2 linked regions of the Homo sapiens genome follow. The protein of the gene in region 1 binds, or shares a complex with, the protein of each later gene. Links are inferred from orthologs where the notes say so. Each region holds a gene or a part of one and is shown in the gene's direction. Other genes may lie near its edges. The genes, in order: NR5A1 and NR0B2.

Evidence for each region.
Region 2: the proteins of NR5A1 (region 1) and NR0B2 are in contact, whole or in part, in a crystal structure (PDB 1YMT), measured with the Mus musculus proteins. The link is inferred for Homo sapiens from one-to-one orthologs. Residues at the interface, in NP_001303616.1 of Mus musculus: Ile275, Val278, Arg282, Phe287, Val292, Gln295, Met296, Leu299, Gln300, Asn450, Leu452, Glu455, Met456; in NP_035980.1 of Mus musculus: Thr19, Ile20, Leu21, Tyr22, Leu24, Leu25, Ser26.

Annotation. Positions count from the first base shown.
Region 1 is NC_000009.12:124,505,463-124,509,370, reverse strand, and holds the start of NR5A1 (steroidogenic factor 1), read left to right. Parts: upstream 1-1,971; 5' UTR 1,972-2,122; intron 2,123-3,908. UniProt on the Homo sapiens protein: Transcriptional activator. Essential for sexual differentiation and formation of the primary steroidogenic tissues. Binds to the Ad4 site found in the promoter region of steroidogenic P450 genes such as CYP11A, CYP11B and CYP21B.
Region 2 is NC_000001.11:26,912,084-26,915,991, reverse strand, and holds the start of NR0B2 (nuclear receptor subfamily 0 group B member 2), read left to right. Parts: upstream 1-2,016; 5' UTR 2,017-2,051; coding exon 2,052-2,583; intron 2,584-3,587; coding exon of another isoform or gene 3,588-3,679; exon of another isoform or gene 3,680-3,905; coding exon 3,906-3,908. UniProt on the Homo sapiens protein: Transcriptional regulator that acts as a negative regulator of receptor-dependent signaling pathways. Specifically inhibits transactivation of the nuclear receptor with which it interacts.

The DNA of each region.
Region 1 (3,908 bases):
CTTGTAAGAACTTCTCTAGGTGAAAAAGACATAATTACAAGGTCATGCACATTGAGGAATAAGTTGTCTGTTACGTTGTAGGTGGAATATATTCGATCAGTTAGCTATGACTGTTGGTGAAATTATATTATAAAAATTATTATTATTGAATTAATGATTATTAATTATTAAAACCCTATTGCCCGGGCTAGAGTGCAGTGGCACAATCATAGCTCACTGCAGCTCCAACTCCTGGGTTCAAACCATCCTCCTGCCTCAGCCTCCCGAGTAGCCGGGACTACAGTCTATCAGTATTATTGTTGTATGTTCACACACAATTTTAAGTGGCATAATGAGGAAAACACACACTAGGTTTTATTTTATTTTATTTTATTTTATTTTATTTTATTTTATTTTATTTGAGACGGAGTCTCACTCTGTCGCCCAGGCTGGACTGCAGTAGCACAATCTTGGCTCACTGCAACCTCTGCCTCCCAGGTTCAAGCGATCCTCCTGCCTCAGCTTCCCAAGTAGCTGGGACTACAGGCACAAGCCACCACACCAGGTGAATTTTTCTATTTTTTAGTAGAGATGGCGTTTTGCCATGTTGGCCAGGCTTGTCTTGAACTTCTTGACCTCAGGTGATCCGCCCACCTTGGCCTCCCAAAGTGCTGGGATTACAGGCATGAGCCACAGTGACTGGCTGGAAAACACATAGGTTTTAAATATAGTTGGCGTTTCTACTTTTTCAGTGGCCTTCCATGAAAAAATATATATAGGGAGAGTTGGCTTCACTTCACTTATCCAGAAAAGTCCCTCTTGTTCCAGATAAGTGAGGTGTTGGGTGTGATTTATTTATTTCCTCCAATGAAGGGATATGTGGGAGGAGGGGTGGTTCTCAACAGTGACTGCCCCATAGTCACCCTGTGCCCCTCCCTGCTCTCCCAAGATGAAAGGCACGGAGGTAAATCCTCTGAGGACAGAGACTTTTCTTCTCTTTCCTATGGGATCCCTGGTGCCTGGAACAGTGCCTGACCCCTAAGTGTGCGCTCAGTAAATGTGAGACAAACAGAGGAACACACAAAAGATCCAGTCACCGTGGGAGCGGCACAACACCCTGCAACCCGGGCCCTACAGGAACAGGATATTTCAGAGCCCATCTGGGCCCAGAGATTGGATGGGGACGTCCCAGGTTGTCTAGGGAGGCCTAGCCTTCTAGATAAGGGCCCCTTCCTGCTACCCTGTCCTATCCTGGACTAGCTTCATACTTGGTTCAACCTGGGGCCACTATAGCCACCACTTGGCCTCAGAGGCAGTCTCAGCCCAGCCTCAGTTTTTCCAGCCATCGACTGGGAACATCAGCAGCCCACAGCAGATGAGGACATTCAGAGGCCACCGTGGCATGCACGCACCAGGTGTCCAGGCCGCTCACCTGCTCCCCTTCCGGCCCCCCTCTTCTTCCACCTGATGGAAGAGGAAAAAGAGGTGGAAGCAGCAGGCCGCCTAGTCAAGTCGCCATGGCCTTGCCTCCGCACTGGCCTGTCCTGACTCTACTCCAATGTCCGGGCTGGGCCAGACCATGCCAGGCCAGGCCCCAGGGAGGTAGCCATTCACAAGGAGAGAGGAGCAGGCGGCAGGCCGGGTGGGGGAGCAGCCCATAAATCAAGCCCCACTCCCACCCGGTTTCTAACAAGCGGGGCTGCCTACCCGCCTCTGTGGGGTCCCTGCCTCTGGGCTCCCACAGCGGGCCTGGAACAGCCAGCTGGCCAAGGCCTCTGCAGTGCCTTGGCCTCCGCCCCCACCCTCAGCCCCCAGATAGATAGGGGTATTTTTTTTCTTTTAGGAGAAGAAGAAAAAATAGACGTAAATGAAGAGAAACACCAACAAAGAAGGCGAGAGGCCTGCAGAGTCACGTGGGGGCAGAGACCAATTGGGCCTCCGGTGGCCCCCCCACCAGGGCGGGGAGGAGGAGGAGGACGGACGGACAGGGCCAGCCTGCTGTCCGGCTGCCGCCCGCCGTGGTGTGAGGGGGTTTCTGCGCACCCACAGTCGCCACCGTCCCACCTGGGCTGCCGGAGCCTCCCCCTGGACCCCTGGTGCCCACTGCCACCCTCATCCGGTGTGAGAGCGCTGCTTCCGCTTCGTAAGTGAGGGCCTTGGCCCAGGCCTCTAATGGCCAGCCTCCTTCTGCAGTGCCTCCCTGCAGCCTGGGCCGGCCACTGCCTGCTCCACTTAGTGACCGGTGCCCCCTGCTCTGGGCAGGGAAGGTGCCAGGGGTCTCCCAGACTCACCCTCCCACCATGCTACCCCCTCTTCTTCCCTGGGCTGCCGATGGGAGGAGCCAGGCCTGTGACCACAAGCCCCATGGAGGTCCGCTGGTGTCCCGCTGTCTCTGGCCAGGCATCCACCAGGCTGTGTGGGTCTGAGCCTAGAGGTCTGTGAGTGTGTCTGGAGGGCTCTGGGCCTGTCTTGGGGCTCTGTCCCCCACCTGAGTTTCTGTGTTGTCTCTGTGGCTCTCTCTGAGTCTTGCTGTGTATCCGTGTGTCTGTCTCCGGCATCCATCTGTCAGCCTGGGTTCTGCGGCCGGGCCAGGTCTAGGCTTCCCTCCCTGGGTGGGTGGATGAGGGGCTGGAACTCCCCAGGCGGTGGGCTGGAACCTGGAACCTGTGGGGGTGGGTGCCTCGGAGCCTGGAGTGCAGAGGAGCCATGGGCTTCCAGCCGGTGAGAGTAGAAACCCTTGGGGAGAGGGGATTGGAGATAGAGGGAGAAGGGCCTGAGCCCAGCCCCCACCCAACCCCGGCGGCTGGGGCCTGTGTGTCCAGCTCCAGGTTTCCAGGAGACCTCGGGTGAGCTCTACCTTAGAACAGCCAACTGGGGCACCCCAGCCCATCATCCACCAACCCCCTTCCCTCCTGCAGTCACTGTCTGAGGGCTCCATTGTGGTGGGGAGCTGTTCAGAGGCGGCAGTGACCCCCACCTCCAGCTCGGGCAGATGCTCTTGTTTCTCAGGGGTTTGGGGGTGCGGGGGGTACGATTAACAGGGTCTCTGGCTCTTTCTTCCCTCCTCATCCAAGATTCTTGCATGGAAACCGCAGTACCCCATCTGTAAAGCCAACATGTTCCACTTTATGCTCGGAGAAAACTGAGGCTCTCGTTTCAGAGAGGAGAAGTGACTTGCCCGAGCTTGCACAGCTAGTCTGCGGGTTCTGCTCCTTCTGTGGGTGAGCCAGCTGAGTGCGGTCTGCGCGGGGGGTTCTCTGGCCACAACTTGCAGGCCCCAGGCCCAGCTCCAACCGAAGCCCGAGGCCTCCAGGCGGGCGGGAGCCCAGATGGAGCCTTTTGGTGGGTTGCGCCGCTGTCAATGCAAAATTGCGGTATTTTCCTGCTTGAAGATCGCAGCTTTTTGGCCTCATGGTCCCCAAACTCTCTCTGACCCCAGGTGCCAGCGGGGGCGGAGGCAGGATGCAAGCAGGCCCCTTCCTTTCGGGTCCGTTTCTCCAGCTGAAAAACAGTGGCCCCGCGGATGGTCCCTAGCCCAGAGCAACTGCTTGGCCCATAGGCCCGGGAACCCCTTTGTCCCCAAGACCGCCCAGCGCTTTCTTCCTCGCCCCACCCCCCCGTGAGAGCTCCGAGGGGAGCAGCGGGGCCCTGCCTCCGGGCTCCTCTCCCAGCTCCTGCGCCCGTAGAGGCTTCGGGTCCCCCCAGGCCTCGGACATTTGTAAAATGGGATTTCCACGAGTCCCATTTCCAGCCCAGCGACCTGAGGCTAGCGAGCAGAAGGGGTTCGCCCCAGATCTCCCCAGAGGGGCGCCACTGAGCGCTTCCGCCAGGCCACACGCGTGCTTTGCCCCTACTGCTTGGGTTCATCCTCACGACCCACCCTTAGCGAGGAAGAGCGGTCATCTACCCACTTCACAGATGCGGCAACT
Region 2 (3,908 bases), on another chromosome or scaffold:
CAGAAAGAGAAAGTGATTTGCCCAAGGTCACTCAGCTAAGTGAAGCAGGATTTGAACCCAGCCAGTCTGACTCCAGAGTCTGCTTCAAGGGGACACTGTGAGAATTCAGTGAGATTTAAAAACATGAAAGGAACTTTATAAATTTAAGGATTAAGACTAATAATCAAATGAAAGAGGTGTGCCTGTTTGTCCACTGGTGCTCAGCTCCACAGAGGAAAGGGGCAGAAAAATCCTCCTACCGTATGCCAGAAACCACTTGGAATTTAACAACCAGGACCTCATTTTGTCCCCATGGCAGCCCTACAGCCAGGCATTATTGTCCCAGGGAGGCTTATCGAGGTTCAAGGATCAACCCAAGTCACATAACCAAAAAGTGATGGATTCTGGAGCAGATGCCAGGGCTAGTGATGCCAGAGCCTCTCTCTCCCCATCCAGGGCACCAGGCTGCCCAACAGCATGCAGCAGAAGGCTTGCCACACTGGACTGGCCAAGGTCCAGGAACATGACACAACCAAGGGCCTCTCCACCTTCTCTCATCCCCTGTGCTCCACCATCTGAGAAAGATGCCCGGGACAGAGGAGCCACGTGGCAGCAGAGCAACACTTCTGCCCAGATCACAAGTGGGCAACGTCTGCAAAGCAGGCAGCAGCAAGGTGGGGGCAGCTAGCCACAAGCTCTGAGAATCTCAGGCTCTGGCTGTGCAATTGGGCCAGTGGGTCCAGGGAAACAAACAAGGACTTTGGAGTCAGGCAAGATCTGGGCTTTGTCTTCCTGGTGGGATGACCTTGGGCAAGTCACTTTAGCTTTTTTAGTCTCATAAAGTAAGAATCTAGCCTTAGGAAGAGGCTGCCAATATTAGAGTGGGAAGTGCCTGACACATAATAAGTGCTTAGAGAATGGCAACCATATATATACATATATATATATATATATGTATGTATGTATGTGTATATATATATACACATATACATATAAATATACATATACATATACATATACATATACATATACATATATATTTTTTTGAGACAGGATCTTGCTCTGTTGCCCAGGCTGGAGAGCAGTGGCATGATCTCAGCTCACTGTAACCTCTGCCTCCCAGTTTCGAGTGATTCTTTTGCCTTAGCCTCTAGAGTAGCTGGGACTACAGGCACATGCCACCATGCCCGGCTAATTTTTGTATTTTTAGTAGAGACGGGATTTTGCCATGTTGGCCAGGCTGGTCTTGAACTCCTGACCTCAAATGATCCCCCTTCCTCAGCCTCCCAAAGTGCTGGGATTACAGGCATGAGCCACCGTGCCCGGCTGGCAACTATCTTTTATTATAATTCTGTGAGTTCTTCTCAGCAGACCTGGCCTTTCAGGAGTGGTAGGAATCAGGCTGGGGATAAGGATTCTGAAGGACCTTATTCCTGCAGGGGGCCCAGAACTGGAATCAGAGGAGGAGGCCTCCTAGATTGGACAGTGGGCAAAGTCCTCCCAGCCCCCAGGGTCCTGGCTCCCTTCCCTGTAGCCTGCTTCTGGCTGACAACAGAAGCAGGGCCCCAAGGTTAGGCAAACAAGCTAGTGATAAGGCACTTCCAGGTTGGGCCTTGCATTCAAGGCCCACCCAGCTCTGGGGCTGGCTTCCTGGCTTAGCAAAAGCCCTAGTCTTTTGTGCACACAAGAGCGGGCACCAATGGGGACACCTGCTGATTGTGCACCTGGGGCCTTGGTGCCCTGGTACAGCCTGAGTTAATGACCTTGTTTATCCACTTGAGTCATCTGATAAGGGGCAGCTGAGTGAGCGGCAGGTGGCCCTGTGCCCTGCACCGGCCACTTCATTGACTGAGGTGATATCAGTGCCACGTGGGGTTCCCAATGCCCCCTCCCCCACCACTTCCCCACCATTCCTGCCAGGGGCAATGTCTGTGTGTTTTTTTCAATGAACATGACTTCTGGAGTCAAGGTTGTTGGGCCATTCCCCCCGTTCCACTCACTGGGAATATAAATAGCACCCACAGCGCAGAACACAGAGCCAGAGAGCTGGAAGTGAGAGCAGATCCCTAACCATGAGCACCAGCCAACCAGGGGCCTGCCCATGCCAGGGAGCTGCAAGCCGCCCCGCCATTCTCTACGCACTTCTGAGCTCCAGCCTCAAGGCTGTCCCCCGACCCCGTAGCCGCTGCCTATGTAGGCAGCACCGGCCCGTCCAGCTATGTGCACCTCATCGCACCTGCCGGGAGGCCTTGGATGTTCTGGCCAAGACAGTGGCCTTCCTCAGGAACCTGCCATCCTTCTGGCAGCTGCCTCCCCAGGACCAGCGGCGGCTGCTGCAGGGTTGCTGGGGCCCCCTCTTCCTGCTTGGGTTGGCCCAAGATGCTGTGACCTTTGAGGTGGCTGAGGCCCCGGTGCCCAGCATACTCAAGAAGATTCTGCTGGAGGAGCCCAGCAGCAGTGGAGGCAGTGGCCAACTGCCAGACAGACCCCAGCCCTCCCTGGCTGCGGTGCAGTGGCTTCAATGCTGTCTGGAGTCCTTCTGGAGCCTGGAGCTTAGCCCCAAGGAATATGCCTGCCTGAAAGGGACCATCCTCTTCAACCCCGGTGAGCTCCCAGACACTCCTGGGTGGGGGGCAAGGCTGAAGCAGGGGCCAGCCAGGGAAGGTAGCTTCTAAGGGTTTGATATCTGTTATCTCATTGGGTCCTCATTTTCTTTTTATTTTTCTGAGACAGAGTCTCACTCTGTCACCCAGTCTGGAGTGCAGTGGTGCGATCTTGGCTCACTGCAACCTCTGCCTCCTGGGTTCAAGCAATTTTCTCTGCCTCAGCCTCCCGAGTAGCTGGGATTACAGATGGCCGCCACCACTCCCGGCTAATTTTTGTACTTTTTAGTAGAGATGGGCTTTCACCATGTTGATCAAGCTGGTCTTGAACTCCTAACCCCTCAGGTGATCCACCCACCTTGGCCTCCCAAAGTGCTGGGATTACAGGCGTGAGCCACCGTGCTTGGCCAGTCCTCATTTTCATCAAATAGCCATCTCACAGAAGAGGCACAGAGAAGCTAAGTGACTAGCTAAAGGTAACACAGCCAGGTAGGGACAGACCAGGATGGCAACTCAGGTCTATTCACTCCAGAGACTGGCCCTTGCCACTCTGCCTGAGAAATTTGCTCTGACCTTTACAGAAGGCTGTGGGGAGGTGGGGTGGGCAGACACAGCTGTGTCTCAGTCACATCCTCAAAGGAAGGCTGCATGGTGAAGCTCTAGAGCTAAAACTCCTCTGTGGGTTCAGAAAGATCACATAGAAGAGATGACTGAAAGGGGCGTAGGGAGGACAGGAAAGGAGTCTTTATGGAATTCGGCCAGGAGAGCGGCAGATGGAGACAGTGCTGTTTGTAATCTGGAGAGCATCTGAGATGAGAGTTCCCCAGGAGTCCCTTGTGGCACGCATAAATCGTAGTAATTAATTGTAATAATAGTAGCAAATACTCATATCACACTTACCATATGTTAGGCCCTATTCTAAGGGTTTTACATATACTAGTTCATTTAAATCTCATAAAAGCCTAGGAGACAGGTCCTATTAATATTATTATTCCCGTTTTACAGATAAAGAAACTGAAGCCCAGAGATTAAGTGACTTGCCCAAGGTCACCCAGCTAATAAGTGACAGTGCTGGGATTCATACCCAGGAAGCCTAATTCTTAACCATTACTCCACACTGCCTCTTCATAAATGGATGGATGAATACATTGAAAATTGATAAATAAATTACCTCCTCTAAAGGAGGAGGTAGTAGTGGGACCTCAAAGGCCGAGCAAAGGAGGCAGAGGGGTGTCTCTGATGGCCCAGATCTTGGGCCAGTCTTGTCCTTTGGTGGCTGGGAGTAGGGTGCTCACCAGCCCTCTTCTCCCTCTCTGCCCACAGATG